Regions from separate parts of the Homo sapiens genome. Here region 2 is linked to region 1. Evidence: fine-mapped expression QTL. A gene starts in region 1. The other region holds a variant in brackets. All regions are shown on one strand. Distances are between the middles of the regions. Region 1 holds the start of GNA15 (G protein subunit alpha 15). Region 2 overlaps GNA15 (G protein subunit alpha 15).

Evidence for each region.
Region 2: its variant is fine-mapped to the expression of GNA15 in whole blood (INTERVAL, PIP above 0.99).

Annotation. Positions count from the first base shown.
Region 1 is chr19:3,131,294-3,142,527 of GRCh38, forward strand. It overlaps GNA15 (G protein subunit alpha 15), which reads left to right and starts at 4,740. Exons shown (of 7, transcript NM_002068.4): 1 at 4,740-5,302. The coding sequence starts at 5,158. GNA15-DT (GNA15 divergent transcript) reads right to left here. Exons shown (of 4, transcript NR_110670.1): 4 at 10,283-11,137. It also overlaps the pseudogene RPL35P10. RefSeq lists an enhancer at 10,253-10,753.
Region 2 is chr19:3,158,349-3,168,575 of GRCh38, forward strand. GNA15 (G protein subunit alpha 15) reads left to right here. Exons shown (of 7, transcript NM_002068.4): 7 at 4,445-5,401. The coding sequence ends at 4,671. Among named protein-coding and RNA genes, the nearest start is that of GNA15-DT, 8.3 kb to the left of the region's middle. RefSeq lists enhancers at 4,103-4,397, 4,201-5,062, 5,063-5,923. The variant A/C (reference allele first, on the strand shown) is at 6,453.

The DNA of each region.
Region 1 (11,234 bases):
ACGCGCCGTGCGCCGCCCGCTCAGCAAGCACGAGGAGAACCTGACGATCAAGAAGCAGCAGCAGAGCGAGCAGCTGTCCCCAGTGCGGAAGTGCGCGGTCAAGGCCCGAGTGGCGCGTTGTCAATAAAGCACAGCTGGCTGAGAAAAAAAAAAACAAAAAAAAAAACACCAAAACAAACAAACAAACAAAAAACACAGCCACAAAGAGCCAATCCACGGTCAGGAGGGAGTTGTTCCGGTGATGGAACTACATTCTGTATCCTGTTTATAGCAGTAATTTACACGAATCTCTACAGCTGTTAAAACTCATAGAAACCAGGCCGGGCGCGGTGGCTCACGCCTGTAATCCCAGCACTTTGGGAGGCCGAGGCGGGCGGATCACGACGTCAGGAGATCGAGACCAGTCTGGACAACATGGTGAAACCCCGTCTCTACTAAAATACAAAAAAAATTAGCCCGGCGTGGTGGTGGGCACCTGTAGTCCCAGCTATTCGGGAGGCTGAGGCAGCAGAATGGCGTGAACCCGGGAGGCTCAGCTTGCAGTGAGCCGAGATCGTGCCACTGCACTCCAGCCTGGGTGACAGAGACAGACTCCGTCTCAATAAATAAATAAATAAATAAATAAATAAATAAACTCATAGAACCATACACCAAAGAAAGTAAATACAATGCTACATAAATTTAGACAATTAAAAACAAGATCTTTTTTTGGGGGGGACAGACCCTTGCTCTGTCAACCCAGGCTGGAGTGCAGTGGGTCAATCATAGCTCACTGCAGCCTCAACCTCTCTGGCCTAAGCAATCCTCCCACCTTAGCCTCTGGAGTACCTGGGACCACAGGCATGAGCCACCACCCCCGGCTAATTTATTTTATTTTATTTTTTAGAAATGGGGTCTCACTGGGAAGGTGGAGGTTGCAGTGAGCTGAGACCGAGCCATTGCACTCCAGCCTGGGCAACAATAACAAAACACCGTCTCAAAAAAAAAAAAAAAAAAAAAAAAGAAAGAAAGAAAGAAAAAAGAAAAAAAGAGATAGAGTCTCACTATGTTGCCCAGGCTGGTCTTGAACTCCTGGGGTCAAGCAATCCTCCCACTTCAGCCTCCCAAAGTGCTGAGATTATAGGCATGAGCCAACATGCCCAGCTGAAATAGATCTTATTAGCAAAAAATACCCCCCAAACCCGGAAATAAATATTAATACCACAGAAGTCAGAATGATAGTTACTGCTGGGAAGGTAGAGATTACTATGAGGAAAACACTAGGGGTCTTTGTGGGGCTAAGGTCTTTTTTTTTTTTTTTTTGAGACAGAGTCTTGCTTGTCACCCAGGCTGGAGTGCAGTGGCACGATCTCAGCTCACTGCAACCTCCACCTCCCAGGCTCAAGCAATACTCCTCCCCCGGCCTCCCGAGTAGCTGGGATTACAGGTGTGCACCATCACACCTGGCTAACTTTTCTATTTTTAGTAGAGACGGGGTTTCACCATGTTGTCCAGGCTGGTCTTGAACTCCTGACCTCAGGTGATCTGCCCACCTTGGCCTCCCAAAGTGCTGGGATGACAGGCGTGAGACACCGCGCCCGGCCTGAAAATGTCCTTAGTCTTGGCCTCAGTGGATTCTGTGGATACCGGCTTCACAACAATTTATTAGGTAATACATTCAGGTTTTATGTGTTTTCTGAAAGAAATATTTTCTACACACACAAGCTCACCCTGGTGTTCCCAGCTGAGCTAATAATACACGACAAATGCTCAGCATGTGGCAAGGAAGTAGCTCAGCCCGTTTAGGGAACCGCAAGGGAGGTTTGTTCAGCAGCTGGAGAAGTGGGCAGAGCCTGGGCCCTGGATCCAGGGAGCCGGCTCATTAATTCTGAAGCCAGCGGGAGCCACAGAGGGTCTGCCACCCTGGTCCAGGCTGTGAAGATGGCGGGTGCTGGTATCCTGTCCAAAAATGCCGCAGGGAGATGCTAGGAGAGTGGCCCCCTGGGCTCACCCTGTGGGGCCTGTGGCTCAGCCTCGTCTCCCAGTTTTGCTGGTCATTTCTGTTTCAACCATCCTGGAAGATCTGCACGGCCATGACCTATTTCTGCGTTTCTTTGCCTGTCCTGGGTGGGACTGCCCCTCGTTGCTGCTATCCGGTTGGGGGCGGGAAGGTGGGTGGCTGGGTGGGCAGATGGCACCTGCCAGCCCCAGTGACCAGATGGGGGCCCCTATCGTACTTCCCATCTGTCATTCGTTATGAATCAACAGTGGAGAAAACCACACGTTTGTGCTGAGCTGGTGAAGCTGCGTCAACGGCTGTCACCGAGCCCTGGTGTCTGGGAGGAGGTGGGGACGGTGGCTGCCAATGGCTGTGTGGCCCTGGGCACGTAATTCGCCCTCTCTGTGCCTTGCCCTATCTGTAAAGGGACCAGAGGCCCCCGAAGTACAAGAATTACGTGTATCTCTTGGGGAGGAGAGTTTTGATCCAGAACTTTCTAGAATTTTCTACAGCCTGTCAATGGGGGTGGGGAATCTTCACCCAAACACTCTGGCTCTGAGTACCTAGGAAGCAGCAACGTTTCTACCAAGCTGCCAGCCACCAGCCCACCCCTAGGGCCCTGAAGTCCCAGAGGGATCAGGTCAGGGCGGCCTCATGGCACTCATTGGGAAGATCTCCTTGACCAGTGAGGTCCACTCCCAAAGTCCCTCTTACACCCGATCTGCCTGTCTGACTTCTGATCCTGAATATCACTTGTCTGTGCGACCTTTGTTGATCCATTTAGAGCAATGACCTTGAACCTTCCCCAACAACATCTCTGCTTAATTTTTCTGGCAGAATTTTTCACCATCCAACGGGCTCAGGTGTATTAAAAAATATATATATTTTACACGTGTGTGTATATATATACACACATATATATTTTTATGTATAATATACATATATGTATATTAAAATGTATACTTTTATGTGTGTATATATGTATGTGTATATATGTATGTGTGTCTATATATTGTGTATATATATGTATGTGTATATATGTATGTGTATATACATATATGTATGTGTGTCTATATATTGTGTATATATATGTATGTGTATATATATGTATGTGTGTGTGTGTATATATATACATAGAGAGAGAGGGAGAGTTTTGTTTTGTTTGTTTCTGGAGACAGGGTTTCACTATGTTGCCCAGGCTGGAGAGCAGTGTTATGATCTCGGCTCACTGCAGCCTCCATCTTCGGGGTTCAAGTGATTCCCTTGCCTCAGCCTCCCAAGTAGCTGGGACTACTGGTGCGTGCCAACATGCCCAACTAATTTTTGTATTAGTAGAGATGGAGTTTCTCCATGTTGGCCAGGCTGGTCTCAAACTCCTGACTTCAAGTGATCCTCCTGCCTCGGCCTCCCAAAGTACTTTGATTACAGATGTGAGCTCCCGCACTCACCTGGCCAAATTTTTTATTCTTTTATTTTTTATTTTTTTTGAGATGGAGTCTCACTTCGTCGCCAGGCTGGAGTGCAGTGGCACGATCTCAGCTCACTGCCACCTCTGCCTCCCGGGTTCAAGCGATTCTCTTGCCTCAGCCTCCCAAGTAGGTGGGACTACAGGCGTGCACCACCACGCCCGGCTAATTTTTGTATTTTTAGTAGAGACGGGGTTTCGCCGTGTTGGCCAGGCTGGTCTCGATTTCTTGACTTTGTGATCTGCCCGCCTTGGCCTCCCAAAGTATAGGGATTACATGCGTGAGCCACCAGGCCCAGCCTAAAATTTATTTTATTATCTGTTCTTTAACTAGAACCTTAGGTAAGGAGGTCTGGGATCTGTGTCTCTTGGCTACCGTGCCTGGCACACAGTTGGCGCTCCATGAATGCACGCACAATGAAGGGATGGCCCTGCCTGGAATCTGCCTGGTAGGCGTCTAGACTCTGGGGCCCCGCAGGTGAGGGATAGGCTCCCGGCTCTGCCTTGTGCCAGCCCCACCGGTCACTCCCCTGCTCTATGCCTCAACCTCCTCATCAGTCAAACAGGGATGACAGTAGTAACTATACAGGGTGATGTGAGTGTAAAACCAGCTAATGTGAGCCAAAACCCGGCTAATTTTTGTATCTTTAGTAGAGACAGGGTTTCGCCATGTTGGCCAGGCTGGTTTCGAACTCCTGACCTCAGGCAAGCTGCCCACCTCTGCAGGGTGGATCACCTGAGGTCAGGGCAGAGTCGCTGGAAACAGTCCATGACACCTGGCCTGAGCTGTTTCTTAAAAATATATCAGAAGGGCCGAGCGTGGTGGTTTATGCCTGCAATCCCAGCACTTTGGGAGGCCGAGGCGGGTGGATCACCTGAGGTCAGGAGTTTGAGACCAGCCTGGCCAACGTGGTGGAACCCTTTCTCTACTAAAAATCCAAAGTTAGCCCGGCGTGGTGGTGGATGCCTGTAATCCCAGCTACTCGAGAGGCTGAGGCAGGAGAATTGCTTGAACCTGGGAGGCAGATGTTGCAGAGTCAAGATCCTGCCACTGCACTCCAGCCTGGGCAATAAGAGTGAAACTCTGTCTCAAAAAAAAAAAAAAAAATATATATATATATATATATATATATATATATATATATATATATATATACACATATATATATATACACACACATATATATATGATATATATATAATGTATCAGCAGTAGCACGGGTCTGACGGTTCCTGATTGGCTCCGAGGAGGGGGACAGCTCCGGGTGAAGCCTGAGGAGAATCCGCCCCTTCTCCAGAAGGAGGAAGAAGGGCCCTGCTGGTCACACAGGACCCAGTCTGCGGTGGGGGTTTTCCCGCCACCGCCCCGCCCTCCCTGGGGCCCCCACCTCACCCTCTCCTGGCACCCTTCACCGTCAACCTGTCGGGCCGGGTCTGAGCAGGTCTGGAGGTGGGCGGGGAGCCCTGGCCTCCCCACCTCCTCCCGTCCCCACCCTGTTCCCAGCACTCAAGCCTTGCCACCGCCGAGCCGGGCTTCCTGGGTGTTTCAGGCAAGGAAGTCTAGGTCCCTGGGGGGTGACCCCCAAGGAAAAGGCAGCCTCCCTGCGCACCCGGTTGCCCGGAGCCCTCTCCAGGGCCGGCTGGGCTGGGGGTTGCCCTGGCCAGCAGGGGCCCGGGGGCGATGCCACCCGGTGCCGACTGAGGCCACCGCACCATGGCCCGCTCGCTGACCTGGCGCTGCTGCCCCTGGTGCCTGACGGAGGATGAGAAGGCCGCCGCCCGGGTGGACCAGGAGATCAACAGGATCCTCTTGGAGCAGAAGAAGCAGGACCGCGGGGAGCTGAAGCTGCTGCTTTTGGGTGAGTCCAGGGTCGGTGGGCGGTGGGTGGTGGGCAGTGGGCGGTGGCCAGCCGGCAGGGGTGTCGGGGCAAGGAGGCGGATCAGGCTAGGTCAGACATTGGCATCGTGGAGCCGTCGCCTCCTCCCAGGGAATGGGGAGCCTGGAACCCATTTTCCAGATGAGAAAGACTGAGGTTCAGAGAAGCCAAGTTCCTTGTCCAACGTGCGACCAGCGGCCAGGTGCCCAGGCCTGTCCACTGTGTGGGGCATATACAATAGCAGACGTGGCTCTACCGGGCCCCTGCCGGGCAGGCCCAGCACGCCCTACCTGTCTGTGTCATGGCGAGGGAATGATGAGCTCAGGTGTGCAACCCGTTCTGGCCAGCCCACCCGTAAGGGAGGGGCCGGCTCCAGCCTCTCCTTCACCAGGACGCTCCCTCTCGCCTTTACCTCCCTGCCATGGCTGGAGAGGGCTTGTCTAGGGCTCCTTTGGGGGCTAGAAAGGATGGATTGATTGGTTCATTGGTTCATTCATTCATTATTCATTCATTTAAGATTTATTGGGTAGCTCCCAGGAACGAGGCAGCCAAACAGGGGAAGATATTTCTGTCTTCCTGGATCTCATTTCCTGTGAAGGAGCCAAGACATTTAGTCTGTAAACTCATAAGCAGATAAAATAATTCTGGCAACAAGAATTATCTAGGAGAAAACAAAACAGGGTGATGGCTTCCATGCGGAGGCTTCAGATGGGGGAGTCGACGTCAGTAACGGTTCAAGATTCTGAACTCTGGCTGGGTGCAGTGGCTCAAGCCTGTGATTTCAGCACTTTGGGAGGCCCAGGCGGGTGGGATCACTTGAGGTCAGGAGTTCAAGACACAGCCAGGCCAACATGGTGAAGCCCCGTCTCTACTAAAATACCAAAAATTTGCCAGGCATGGTGGCTCATGCCTGTAATCCCAGCACTTTGGGAGGCCGAGGTGGGTGGATCACAAGGTCGGGAGATCGAGACCAGCCTGACCAACACGGTGAAACCCCATCTCTACCAAAATACCAAAAATTAGCCAGATGTGGTGGTGCGTGCCTGTAGTCCCTGCTACTCGGGAGGCTGAGGCAGGGGAATTGCATGAAACCAGGAGGTGGAGACTGCAGTGAGCTGAGATCATGCCACTGCACTCCAGACTGGCGACAGAGTGAGACGCCATCTCAAACAAATAAACAAACAAACAAAACCAAAAATTAGCTGGGCATGGTGGCACACAGCTATAATCCCAGCTACTCGGGAGGCTGAGGCATGAGAATCGCTTGAACCCAGGAGGCAGAGGTTGCAGTGAGCTGAGATCGGGCCACTGCACTCCAGCCTGGATGACAGAGCAAGACTCATTGTCAATAAATAAATAAATATAAATAAAATAAATAAATAAATCATGCCTGTAATCCCAGCACTTTGGGACGCCAAGGCGGGCAGATCACTTGAGGCCAGGAGTTCGAAATCAGCCTGGTCAACGTGGCGAAACCCCGTCTCTACTCAAAATACAAAAAAATTAGCCGGGTGTGGTGGCATGTGCCTGTAATCCCAGCTACTGGGGAGGCTGAGGCAGGAGAATCGCTTGAAACCAGGAGGTGGAGGCTGCAGTGAGCCAGGATTGCACTATTGCACCCCAGCCTGGGCAACAAGAACAAAACTCCGTCTCAAAAAAAAAAAAATTCTGATCTCTGAAACCTCGGGGTCTTCTCATTCCCGTAGCTTGTTTCCCCAATTACCTTTCCCTGATTATGGCCCCGTTGGCCTAAGCCCGGGATGCTAGCCTGGGAGGGTCTTCTGGGATCCCCGAGCTCTGGGTTGGGGGCTGGAGAAGGTCTCAAGTCTTCTGGACTCGCGTTTGTCTGCCCCGGGCAAAGAGCTTGATCATCCCGTGATGGTTGCTATCGTCCTTTCCTCGTTCAGTGGGAAGAGGCCGCCCGAGAGGAAAGAGAGAGAACATCGAGTGGGATGGTGGGGACCCCCAGGAACTGCACCTTCACTGGGGGCCCTTTCTTTCTTTTTTCTTTTCTTATTTTTATTTTTATTTTTTTGAGACGGAGTCTTGCTCTGTCACCCAGGCTGGGGTGCAGTGGTGCGATCTCAACTCACTGCAACCTCCGCCTCCCGGGTTCAAGCAATTCTCCTGTCTCAGCCTCTTGAGTAGCTGGGATTATAGGCACGCGCCACCACGCCCAGTTAATTTTTTTTTTTTTTGTATTTTTAGTAGAGATGGGGTTCCACCATGTTGGCCAGGCTGGTCTCGAACTCCTGACCTGGTGATCAACCCGCCTTGGCCTCCCGAAGTGTTGGGATTACAGGCGTGAGCCACCGCGCCCAGCCTCTTTTTTTTTTTTTTTCTTTTTTTTTAGATTGAGTCTTGCTCTGTCCCCCAGGTTGGAGTGCAGTGGTGAGATCTCAGCTCACTGCAACCTCCGCCTCCTGGGTTCAAGTGATTCTCCTGCCTCAGTCTCCTGAGCAGCTGGGACTACTGGTGCGCACTACCACACCTGGCTAATTTTTGTATTTTTAGTAGAGATGGGGTTTCACCATGTTGGCCAGGCTGGTCTCGAACCCCTGACCTCAGGTGATCCTACCACCTTGGCCTCCCAAAGTGTGGGGATTACAGGCGTGAGCCACTGCACCCAGTCAAGGGCCCTTTCAACTCTAGCCTTGATCCCTCTTACTGAACGAGATAAAAGAATATCTCAGCAGGGCATAGTGGTTCATTCCTGTAATCTTAGCACTTTGGGAGGCCTAGGTGGGAGGATTGCTTGAGCTTAGGAGTTTCAGACCAGCCTGGGCAACTTAGCAAGACCCAGTCTCTAAAAAAAATAAATAAATAAAATAATTAGCCAGGCATGGTGGTGCGCAACTGTAGTTCCAACTACTTGGGAGGCTGAGGTGAGAGGATCACTTGAGCCTGGGAGGTTGAGGCTGCAGTGAGCTATGATCATGCCACTGCACTCCAGCCTGGGTGACAGAGCAAAGCTGACTCTGTCTCAAAAAAAAAAAAAAAAAAATGCCGGGTGCAGTGGCTCATGCCTGTAATCCCAGCACTTTGGGAGGCCGAGGTGGGCAGATCATGAGGTCAGGAGGTTGAGAACATCCTGGCTAACACGATGAAACCCCGTCTCTACTAAAAATATAAAAAATCAGGGCTGGGTGCGGTGGCTCACGCCTGCAATCACAGCACTTTGGGGGGCCGAGGAGGGTGGATCACGAGGTCAGGAGATGGAGACCATCCTGGCTAATGTGGTGAAACCCCATCTCTACTAAAAATACAAAAATTAGCCAGGCGTGGTGGTGCGCACCTGTAGTCCCAGCTACTTGGGAGGGTGAGGCAGGAGAATTGCTCTAACTTGGAGGCAGAGGTTGCAGTGAGCCAAGATCACACCACTGAACTCCAGCCTAGGCAATAAGAGTGAAACTCCATCTCAAAAAAAAAAAATCTATCTATCTATCTATCTATCTATCTATCTATCTATCTATATTTGACATATTAATGTGTCATATTATGTCACATTATGACGTATCATATCGATATGTCTTATTATTTTAAATAAATAGGGCTACTTAGGCTATCTACTTCTTCTTGTGTGGGTTTTGATCATTTGTGTCTTTCAAATAATTTGTCCATTTTGCCTGTGTTATCAAATTTATTGGCATAACATTTATAACGTTCCCTTGTTCTCCTGCTACTGTCTGTAGGATCTGCAGTGATGTCCTCTCTTTTGCTCTTGGTATCGATCATTTCTGCCTTTGCTCATTTTTTTCTTGATCTATCAAGCTAGGGGTTTATCACTTTTAGTGCTCTTTCCTCGAATACCTCAAGGTCATTTATCCCTGACCTTTGCCTGGCTGGCCCTTTCACTCCATGTAGGTCTCAACCCAAGTGTCGCCTCCTCAGAGAAGTCTTCCCTGACTACCCTAGCTATAAAGACAGTCCTATCTTCTCCTTCCCCTTACTCTGTTTGATTTTTCTTCCTGGCCCTCACTATTTGTTCACTTGTTTATTGTTTATCTCTCCAGCTATACAGCAAGCAACAAAAGGGTAGGGACCACATCTGTCTTCTTCATCCCTGTGTCTCCAGCATCTAGCACAGGTGTACAATGAGCCTGCCATATAGTAGATGCTCAAGAAATGCTGAATGAATGAATGAATGAATGAATGAATCATTTTTGGGGAGAACTTCCCCCAGACACTGTATCATATCTTCCTGGAGCTGGGAAAGTCCCTTCCACATACCACTCTGGGCACTACTCAGCCAGCCTCAAAGCAGGAAGCCCCTTCTACTGATGGAGGGCAGGGGATGACATCCATGTCCCCAGGCACTGATGTAGCACTGTGGACTGTGGTTTAAACCACCTCATCCCTGGAGACAGGTCTGAGGGCAACCTCCAGACCTCTGTCCCTTCTTGGAAACAGGAATTGAATCCAAAAGCTGTTTTTTTTTTACCTGGAGGTGGCTGATCCTTTTGAGGAAGATGGCAAAAAGGACCAGGGTGGGGGTGGGTCTGTCCCTGACATGAAGCAACCCTCATATTGGGGAAGGGGGAGAGTCAGAATGAAGCCGTGAGCCGGGTATGGTGGCACATACCTGTAGTCCCAGTTACTCGGGAGGCTAAGGCAGGAGGATTGCTTGAGCCCAGGAGTTCAAGACCAGCCTGGACAACATTGCGAGACCCAGTCTCTAAACAAAAACAAAAAAAGAAAAGAAAAGAAAGTGAACAACAACAAAAACAGGAAAATAAAGCTGTGAAAGGGACCAGTTATGTCCTTAGCACTTTAAACATTTTATTTTTTATTTTTATTTTTGAGACAGAGTCTTACTCTATCACCCCGGTTGGAGTGCAGTGGTGCGATCTCGGCTCACGGCAACCTTTGCCTCCTGGGTTCAAGCAATCCTCTTGCCTCAGCTTCCTGAGTAGCTGGGACTACAAGTGTGCACCATCATGCCCAGCTAATTTTTGTATTTTTAGTAGAGACGGGGTTTCACCATGTTAGCCAGGCTGGTCTCGAACTCCTGACCTCAGGTGATCCATCTGCCTTGGCCTCCCCAAAGTGACGAGATTAGAGATGTGAGCCATTGTGCCCGGCCTGTTCTTAGCACTTTGAGGCAGGCACTCCTAGTTTCCCCCAAAGGATAAACTGAGGCTCAGAGAGGCAGAGCGACTTGCCCAAGGTCACACAGCTGAGACTCGCACCTAGAATTCTGGTTCCAAAGTCCATGCTCCTGACTGCCCTGTTCGCCTGCCTTGGGGGACAGAAACACCACAGAACCCCAGTGCCAGATGGGGAAAATGAGGCCCAAGGAGGCAGCAGGATTGATTGGGGGTCAGCAGCTAGTTTGAGCCAGAGCGGGACTGAGAGGCCGAGCCTCCTGCCCCTGCGGCTGCCTGGCCTGGCTCCCCACTTCCCCAGCAGCTGCGTTTCCTGTGAGGGCCTGGTGCTGGACTCTGTGCACATAGCTGGCTCCAGTTGCCTTGTGATGACTGGGGCTTGGCACGGTTAACCCAGTTCCTTCCTGGCATCTGCCGGTTCCACTTCCTCCTGTCCTCCTCCGTGCCCAGGAGGAAGCAGGAACTTCCCGTCTGGGCCGCATGGCCTTTGGGGGTATCCTAAAACAGATCACTCCCACCATTTCTATCCAGGAGCTGGGGGATGTCTGGGGGTCGGGGGGCAATGGAGAGGTCCCAGAATCCTTTGTGGCTTCAGGACAGCAATGGATTGCAAAGAGGGGGTTCTCACGCAGCTCTTCAGGCTTCGGGTGATGACCCATCCCTGAGTCATCAAATCTGTGTCGCGGGTGGCAACAGGATTATCATTTATTTCCTATAACAAAGCAGAAGAGGAAAAAAAAATCAGTGCATCACAAAATAAAGCCAACTGTTGCTTGCCAAGACTTATGTTTGTTCTCTGCACTTTGGGG
Region 2 (10,227 bases), 27 kb after region 1:
TCACCATGTTGACCAGGATAGTCTCGATCACTTGACCTCCTGATCCACCCGCCTCAGCCTCCCAAAGTGCTAGGATTATAGACAGGAGCCACCATGCCCGGCCAAACATTTTATTTTATGCTTGTTGGCCAACATTTGGGGTTTGAGCCAAGATCCTTCAAGCATGGGTTTGCTATGTAGAGGTCACTGTTGTAAAGCACTTCTGGAAAGATTGTCTACTATTTCCAGAATCTGCCTAGGTTTTAAGAATGATTCTTTTTCTTTTCTTTCTTTCTTCTATTTTTTCTTTTTGAGACAGAGTCTCACTCTGTCACCCAGGCTGGAGTACAGTGGTGCGATCTTGGCTCATGGCAACCTCCAACTCCCCGGTTCAAGTGATTCTCCTGCCTTAGCCTCCCAAGTAGCTGTGATTACAGGCACGTGCCACCAAGCCTGGCTAATTTTTAGTAGTTTCCTGTCCTATTTTTAGTAGAGATGGGGTTTCACCATGTTGGTCAGGCTGGTCTCGAACTGACCTCAAGTGATCCACCTACCTCAGCCTCCCAAAGTGCTGGGATTACGGGCGTGAGCCACCGCATCTGGCCATAACGTTTCTTTTTCTAATCTTTCATAGTGATCTCATCTATCCCTAATTGGATAGCAATTTCTTTTTCTTTAATCCATTTTTTCTTTAATTTTTTTTTGTTTGTTTTTTGAGACGGAGTCTCGCTCTGCTGCCCAGGCTGGAGTGCAGTGGCGCAATCTCAGCTCACTGCAAGCTCTGCCTCCTGGGTTCACACCATTCTGCTGCCTCAGCCTCCCGAGTAGCTGGGATTACAGGTGCCCGCCAGAACGTCTGGCTAGTTTTTTGTATTTTTGGTCGAGATGGGGTTTCATCATGTTACCCAGGTTGGTCTCAATCTCCTGACCTCATGATCCACCTGTCTCGGCCTCCCAAAGTGCTGGGATTACAGGCGTGAGCCATCGTGCCCAGTCTATTTTTTCTTTAATTTCTTTTCTTTTTTTTTTTTTTTTTGAGATGGAGTTTTGCTCTTTTTGCCCAGGCTGGAGTGCAATGGCACAATCTCGGCTCACCGCAACCTCCGCCTCCCGGGTTCAAGGGATTCTCCTGCCTCAGCCTCCCGAGTAGCTGGGATTGCAGGCATGAGCCACCACCCCGGCTAATTTTGTGTTTTTAGTAGAGACGGGGTTTCTCCATGTTGGTCAGGCTGGACTTGAACTCCCGACCTCAGGTGATCCACCCGCCTCGGCCTCAAAGTGCTGGGATTACAGGCGTGAGCCACCACACCTGGCCTTTCTCTTTAATTTTTAAAGCAGAGCTTTGAACAATGTTTCCAAAGCACACAGCTTAGTTTTGTAATACAATGACCTTCTTTCATGCGGCACTTGTAGCTACAGATTTGCATAACGTTTCTTTTAATTACATATGAATCAAGACACGTACAATGGGCAAAAACAGGTTTGGGAACAAACTCTCAGTCCATCCAGAGGGTGAAAGGGCCACAGGGCAACTACAGAGAAACACCATCTAGTGTTGGGCACCACTTAGTATATTTTACAAAGGGGAGGCAGAGTTGTGGTTAATCCAGGGACCAACGTGGGGAAGGTACATATTCACTAGCACTTTCCCCAGAACACCACTGTGAGGATAAAGTGTGGTGGCGGGTGTCCTGCTTAGCTACTGCCGAGTAACAAACCATCCCCAAACTTAGTGACTTAAACTGGTCATTTTCCTTTGCTTATGATTTTGTGGGTCAGGAATTTGGGAAAGGTTGAGCTGGGTAAGTTCATCTCTGATCCATGTGACATCAGCTGGGCTCTATGGGATTGGAGATAAACTTCCAAGATGGCTTCTTCCCCCATATGTCTGGTGCCTTGGTGCTCTTGGCACTCTTGGCCTCTCTCTCTGTGTCTCTCCCTGCCTCCCTCTCCCATCTCATCTCTCTCTCCTCCCCTTTCTCCTAGTCTGTCTCTCCTTTTCCACCTCCCCTGTTCTCTCTGTCTCCATCTGGGGCCTCATGATCCACAGCCTCTTCACATGGTTTGAGCTTACTCACAATATGGCTGCCTCAGGGTAGACAGACTTCAGCCCAGGTGGAAGCTGCTTCTCATGATAGCCTCAGAAATGTCAGACGTTACTCTGCCACATTCTATTTGTCAAGCACATCACTCATATCAGCCCGGATTCAAAAGAAAGAGACTCCATCTCTTGAAGGCAGCATGACACATGCATACAGGGAGGGAAGGAAGTGACGGCAGCCATCTTGGAGATAACTTGCCTTCATGTCCTGGGGATGCCGTAACAAAGTACCACAAACTGGGTGGCTTAAAACAACAGGAAACAACAGAAGTCCAAAGTTAAGGTATTGGCAAGGTTGGTTCCTTTTGGAGGCTCTAAGGGAAAATCCATTCCATGCTTCTCTCTCAGCTTCTGGTGGTGGCCTACAATCCTTAGCTTGTAGACATATCACTGCAATCTCTGCCTCCATGTTCACATGGCTGTCTTCTCACCATGCCTTTATGTGTCCTCTCCTGTTGTTATAAGGCCACCAGTCATTGGATTTAGGGCCCATACTTTGGTATGACCACTTTTTTTTTTTTTTTTTTTTTTTGAGACAAGGTCTTGCTCTGTTGCCCAGGCTAGAGTCCAGTGGTGTGATCACAGTTCACTGCAGCCTCAACCTCCTGGGCACAGGTGATCCTCCCACCTCAGCCTCTTGAGTTGCTGGGACTACAGGCGCACACCACCACACCTGGGTAATTTTTGTATATTTCTGTAGAGACAGGGTTTCGCCATGTTGCCCAGGCTGATCTGGAACTCCTGGGCCCAACCACACATCTGTCATCCACCTGCCTTGGCCTTCCAAAGTGCTAGGATTACAGGCGTGAGCCCTCATGCCTGGCCATGACCTAATTTAACTTAACTAATTACATCTGCAAATATCCGATTTCTAAAAGTCATATTCTGAAGTTCCAGGTGGACATGAATTTTGGGGGACACTGTTCACCTCAATATACAAGCAACCATAGTAGATGAGTCCTTAGTACATGCTTGACACCAGGTCCACAATCAGTAAACATAAACTTTGGTGAAGTCACCAGGTTTTGATCCCTGGTCTTGTCATGTCTCAGAGCCCATGAGGCCAATTTTAGCCAATTATACCCACAAGATTCAGGGTCTGGGAGATAGACGTCAAGTTGTTCCAGGATGGTGGCCTGGATAGCCCCTCTTCCTTGCCAAGCAGCCCTGGGAATCAGCTCATAGTTTAGAGAATTTGGGAACAGGATAAGGTAGATATTTTTTTCATTCAGGTCAAAGGGAACCACCCATGACTCATCCTTGTCTCCCAGCACAAGTGACTGGTGCACTCTTTGCTGACTCCCAGCCCTACCCTCCACTGTGCTAAATAATATTTGTGATAATAATAAGAAACCACACTTTGGGAGGCTGAGGCGCGCAGATCGCTTTAGGTCAGGAGTTTGAGACCAGCCTGGCCAACATGGCAAAGCCCCATCTCTGTTAAAAATACAAAAATTAGCTGGGTGTGGTGGCGGGGGCCTGTCATCCCAGTTACTCGGGAGGCTGAGGCAGGAGAATCGCTTGAACCCAGGAGGTGGAGGTTGCAGTGAGCTGAGATCATGCCACTTCACTCCAACCTGGGTGACAGAGTGAGACTCTGTCTCAAAATAATAATAATAATAATAATGATAATAATAATAAAATTGATAACAGCAGCTAACACATCTACCGCACTGGTGGAAGCACTCTACAAAGCTTCTTTAATCTTCATGTTAAAACCCTATGCAGGGCTGGGCACAGTGGCTCACGCCTGTAATCCCAGCGCTTTGGGGGGGTCAAGGCGGGCTGATCATTTGAGGTCAGGAGTTCGAGACCAGCCTGGCCAACATGGCAAAACCCCATCTCTACTAAAAATACAAAAATTACCTGGGCATGGTGGCAGGCGCCTGTAATCCCAGCTACTGCCAAGATTGCACCATTGCACTCCAGCCTGGGCGACAGAGCGAGGCCCCATCTCAAGAAAAAAAAAAAGAGGACTCTCTTCCCCTCGTTTGGCCTTGATGCCGCCATCTTCACAGTCCTGGGATATTTGTCTATGCGATTCCAGTCTTCCAACTGCACTGGCTGTAAGCGAGGCCAAGAGAGTGTCTCTCTTTAACACAGTTCTGCCCGAAGTCCCAGAGCTGGGTCTCATTGGTCCATTTCAGGTCACATGACTCGTGTGAGACAATCTCCTGTGTTCCCATTGGCTGGGCCGGAGTCGTGTGACCAGCTATGACTACAAAAGATGGAGTCAACGCACAGAAAAATGACAGGCGCGATCCCTGGGTCCCTTCAGTGCTGGTTACAGGGAAGAGGGTCTCCAGAGGCCCCCTGGGTCCAAAGAGGGAGGGTCCTCACCCCCTTCCCACACTGTTTCCCCAGGCCCTAAGCAGGATGCTGAGGCAGCCAAGAGGTTCATCCTGGACATGTACACGAGGATGTACACCGGGTGCGTGGACGGCCCCGAGGGCAGCAAGAAGGGCGCACGATCCCGACGCCTCTTCAGCCACTACACATGTGCCACAGACACACAGAACATCCGCAAGGTCTTCAAGGACGTGCGGGACTCGGTGCTCGCCCGCTACCTGGACGAGATCAACCTGCTGTGACCCAGGCCCCACCTGGGGCAGGCGGCACCGGCGGGCGGGTGGGAGGTGGGAGTGGCTGCAGGGACCCCTAGTGTCCCTGGTCTATCTCTCCAGCCTCGGCCCACACGCAAGGGAGTCGGGGGACGGACGGCCCGCTGCTGGCCGCTCTCTTCTCTGCCTCTCACCAGGACAGCCGCCCCCCAGGGTACTCCTGCCCTTGCTTGACTCAGTTTCCCTCCTTTGAAAGGGAAGGAGCAAAACGGCCATTTGGGATGCCAGGGTGGATGAAAAGGTGAAGAAATCAGGGGATTGAGGACTTGGGTGGGTGGGCATCTCTCAGGAGCCCCATCTCCGGGCGTGTCACCTCCTGGGCAGGGTTCTGGGACCCTCTGTGGGTGACGCACACCCTGGGATGGGGCTAGTAGAGCCTTCAGGCGCCTTCGGGCGTGGACTCTGGCGCACTCTAGTGGACAGGAGAAGGAACGCCTTCCAGGAACCTGTGGACTAGGGGTGCAGGGACTTCCCTTTGCAAGGGGTAACAGACCGCTGGAAAACACTGTCACTTTCAGAGCTCGGTGGCTCACAGCGTGTCCTGCCCCGGTTTGCGGACGAGAGAAATCGCGGCCCACAAGCATCCCCCCATCCCTTGCAGGCTGGGGGCTGGGCATGCTGCATCTTAACCTTTTGTATTTATTCCCTCACCTTCTGCAGGGCTCCGTGCGGGCTGAAATTAAAGATTTCTTAGAGGCTGCGTCGCCAGCGTCCTGTTTATCCCCTCTGCATTCCTTTCTCGGCTTACGTGTCCCGGGGGCAGTGCTTACAGTGCGGGGAGCAACGTGGAGTAGGAAGGAAAAAAGTTATACTTCTTGTCTACCCACCTGTCCTGGCCATGGTACCCAGAACTGTGGAGGCTGTGAGTCCCGCAAGCCGGGACGTGGAGTCCAACCTCCCTCCCAGGCTGGGGGGGACATTGAAGCAGACTCCTCCGTGGCTACTGACCTGAAATTCCAGTAGCAGCCCCCACCCAGCTTTGAGAAGGCCTCTTACTATCCTCAGGGCAGTGTTCTGGGGTGCAAGCCGTAGCACCCCACTTTACAGGTGAGGAAACCGGGGCGCAGAGAAGTGGAGTAATTTGACTAAGCTCACACACCTGGAATTGACAGAGGCAGGAGCCTGTTCCTACGTTGAACACATTTGTGGTTTTTTATTTGTTTGTTTTTTGAGACAATCTCACTTGGTTGCCCAGGCTGGAGTGCAGTGGTGCGATCTCGGTTCACTGCAGCCTCTGCCTCCTGGGTTCAAGTGATTCTCATGCCTCAGCCTCTGCAGTAGCTGAGATTACAGGCACCCGCCACCACACCTGGCTACTTTTTTTTTTTTTGATGGAGTCCCGCTCTGTGGCCCAGGCTGGAGTGCAGTGGCGCAATCTCGTCTCACTGCAACCTCCACCTCCCAGGTTCAAGTGATTCTCCTGCCTCAGCCTCCTGAGTAGCTTGGACTACAGTTGTGTGCCATCACACCTGGCCATATTTTTGTATTTTTAGTAGAGACAGGGTTTCACCATGTTGGCCAAACTGGTCTCAAACTCCTGACCTCAAGTGATCCGCCTCCCTCGACCTCCCAAAGTGCTGGGATTACAGGCATGAGCCACCACACCTGGCCTAATTTTTCTTCTTATAAAAACACTAGTCACACTGGATCAGGGTCCAGCCTGTCATCCCCATCTTAACTTGATTACATCGGCAAAGACCGTATTTCTAAATAAGGTCCCATTCACAGATACCGGGGGTTATGACTTCATC[A/C]TATCTTTGTAGGGGAGCCACATTTGAACCTATAAAAGGTATTTTGTAATACAAAAAGGAGCCGGGCGTGGTGGTGCATGCTTGCAATCCCAGCTAATTGGGAGGCTGAAGCATGAGAGTTGCTTGAACCCGGGAGGCGGAGGTTGCGGTGAGCCAAGATCCTGCCACTGCACTCTAGCCTGAGCGACAGAGTGAGACCTTGTCTCAAATAATAAATAAATAAATACATAAATAAATAAATAAATATAAAAGTATGTTATAGAAACCCTCTCCACTGAGTTTGGTCTGACATTTTGCTGCTGGTCAGACTGGGGTGATGGGTTTCAGGGAGGAAGACCTCAGTGGTGACAGCCCTTCTCACCACATCCTATCTTTCTGTTTTTTTTTTGAGACGGAGTCTCACTCTGTCACCCAGGCTGGAAGTGCAGTGGTGTGATCTCGGCTCACTGCAAGCTCCGCCTCCCAGGTTCACACCATTCTCCTGCCTCAGCCTCCCGAGTAGCTGGGATTACAGGCGCCCGCCACCACGCCTGGCTAATTTTTTGTATTTTTAGTAGAGACGGGCTTTCACCGTGTTAGCCAGGATGGTCTCAATCTCCTGACCTTGTGATCCGCCCGCCTCGGCCTCCCGAAGTGCTGGGATTACAGGTGTGAGCCACCGCGCTCTGCCTCTTGTTGTTGTTTTGTAAGAATTTTAGACTCACAGAAAAGTTGCAGAAGTTGTACACAGTTCCCAAATGCCCTCCACCCAGCTTCCTCTTACCTCTTACGTAACCCTAGTACAACCCAGGAAATTCACATCAGCGAGCGTCCTATGAACGAACCTGTGTGTAGACCTTACTAGAATGTGGCGGGTTCTCGCTCCCGTCCTCCTTTCCTGGACCAGGATCCAATCCCGGATCCCACATCGCCATGAGCTGCCTCCCTCTCCTCATTCTGGGGCAGTGCCTCAGTTTCCTTTGTGACACGTCGGAGGAGTTTTGCTTGGTTGTTTCTTGAGCCGTTCCTCAGGTTGGGTTGGTGTGAGGTTTGCTGGTGACAGAAAGGGATGTCAGAGCCACTCAGGGCATCACCTGACTGGGTTCATCATGACAAAGTGGCTCATCCCTGGCGATCATACGTTGCGGATGTCTTTTCACCATTGGTTGGTCGGAGTCAGGACCCAAACAAAGCCCGTGCGTGGCGCTTGGGTGCTGTGTCTCTTAAGTCTCTTTCCTCTTTTTTTTTTTTTGAGACGGAGTCTTGCTCTGTCACCCAGGCTGGAGTGCAGTGATGCGATCTCGGCTCACTACAAGCTCTGCCTCCCGGGTTCATGCCATTCTCCTGCCTCAGCCTCCTGAGTAGCTGGGACTACAAGTACCCGCCACCACGCCCGGGTAATTTTTTGTATTTTTTAGTAGAGACGGGGTTTCACTGTATTAGCCAGGATGGTCGCGATCTCCTGAACTCGTGATCCAACCGCCTTGGCCTCCCAGAGTGCTGGAATTACAGGCGTCAGCCACCGCGCCCAGCCTCCTCTTTTTTTTTTTTTTTTTTGAGACAGAGTTTTACTCTTGTCACCCAGGCTGGAGTGCAGTGGTGTGATCTCAGCTCACTGCAACCTGCACCTCCTGGGTTCAAGCGATTCTCTTGCCTCAGCCTCCTGAGTAGCTGAGATTACAGGCATGCGCTACCACACCTAGGTAATTTTTATATTTTTAGTAGAGACGGAGTTTTGCCATGTTGGCCAGGCTGGTATCGAACTCCTGACCTCAGGTGATCCTCCCGCCTCGACCTCCCAAAGTGCTGGGATTACAGGCGTGAGCCACTGTGCCCAGCCATGACCCAGTGGGTCTTAAGAGTTTTTTGACTGGGCACAGCGAGATGCTTTTAACTCATCCTTTACTTTGTCAGCTTCAGATCTGCACTGGATCGTTTCTCCAAGGAGCCCTCTTTCCTTTGAATGGGAGATGATATTTAGAGACCACAATCTGAGCACCAAGTGAGGAAACACATCTTGTCTTTTTTTTTATTATTATACTTTAAGTTCTAGGGTACATGTGCACAACTGTGCTGGTTTATTACATAGGTATACATGTGCTGTGTTGGTTTACTGCACCCATTAACTCGTCATTTACATTAGGTATTTCTCCTAATGCTATCCCTCCCCCCTCCCCTCACCCCACGACAGGCCCCGGTGTGTGATGTTCCCCACCCTGTGTCCACGTGTTCTCATTGTTCAGTTCCCACCTATGAGTGAGAACATGCGGTGTTTGGTTTGCTGTCCTTGTGATGGTTTGCTCAGAATGATGGTTTCCAGCTTCATCCATGTCACTACAAAGGACATGAACTCATCCTTTTTTATGGCTGCATAGTATTCTGTGGTGTATATGTGCCATATTTTCTTTTTCTTTTTTTTTGAGACGGAGTCTCACTCTGTCACCCAGGCTGGAGTGCAGTGGTGCAATCTGGGCTCACTGCAAGCTCCGCCTCCCGGATTCATGCCATTCTCCTGCCTCAGCCTCCTGAGTAGCTGGGATTACAGGCGCCCACCAGCAAGCCCGGCTAATTTTTTGTATTTTTAGTAGAGACGGGGTTTCACCGTGTCAGCCAGGATGGTCTCGATCTCCTGACCTTGTGATCTGCCCGCCTCAGCCTCCCAAAGTGCTGGGATTACAGGCGTGAGCCATCACGCCCGGCCTGTGCCACATTTTCTTAATCCAGTCTATCATTGATGGACATTTGGGTTGGTTCCAAGTCTTTGCGGAAACACATCTTTTGTTCGCTTATTTTTAGTGCAAAAATATTTGAAACCTACAGAAGTTACAAAACCATTACAATGTATTCCCCTGTATTTTTCATCCAGGTCAGGAGCCGGCAAACTGCTACCCACAGGCCAAATACTACTTCAATTGCTTTTGTAAAGTTTTATTGAAACACGGTCATGTCCATTCATGTACCTGTGTCTACGCAGGCTGTTCCTGCATCCATGGAATTGAGTAACTGCCACTGATACTGTCTGGCCCCAAAAGCCAAAAATATTTACTATTTGGCCTTTTTGTTTTGTTTTGTTTGTTTTTTACTCCCCTTAAAGACAAGGTCTTGCTCCGTCACCCAGGCTGGTGTGCAGTGGTGCAACCTCAGCTCACTGCTGCCTCCAACTCCTGGGCTGAAGGGTTCCTCCTGCCTCAGCCTCCCCGGGGATTCCAGGCATAAGCCCCTGTGTCCGGCCAGGTGTGAGTTTTCGAGTGGACATGCTTGCATTCCTCTTGAGTGTGACCCTAGCGACAGAATTGCTGGGTCATGTGCTGAGGTCATCCATCCATTTCTAACCCAGGGTTGGCCGGCAGCAGCCCCTCCGAGCTGGCTCCTGTGTTCTTTGCCAGGTCCTCCTCCCTCTGTGATCACGCCCTCCCTCTCTGGCACACTGAGATGTTCCAGGCTCATCTCCTGCCCTACTCTTGGAATCAACCCTTCCTCCCAGGTTCCCTGGATCCTTTCAGCAAGGGGCTGTAGGGGGAGGGAGGTGATCTTTAGAAGCCACGATCTGGGCACTAGGTGCTCCTTGCTCTGGGATTGTCTCAGTGGAAAGTTAGGACAGGGTTTTTTTATGTTTTTTGCATAAATCATGAGATCCTGAATTCACACTGATATTTGCAATCCTTTCTTTTTTTTTTTTTTTGAGACAGAGTCTTGCTCTGTCACTGAGGCTAGAGTGCAGCAGCACGATCTCGACTCACTGCAACCTCCACCTCCTCGGTTCAAGCGATTCTCCTGCCTCAGCCTCCCAAGTAGC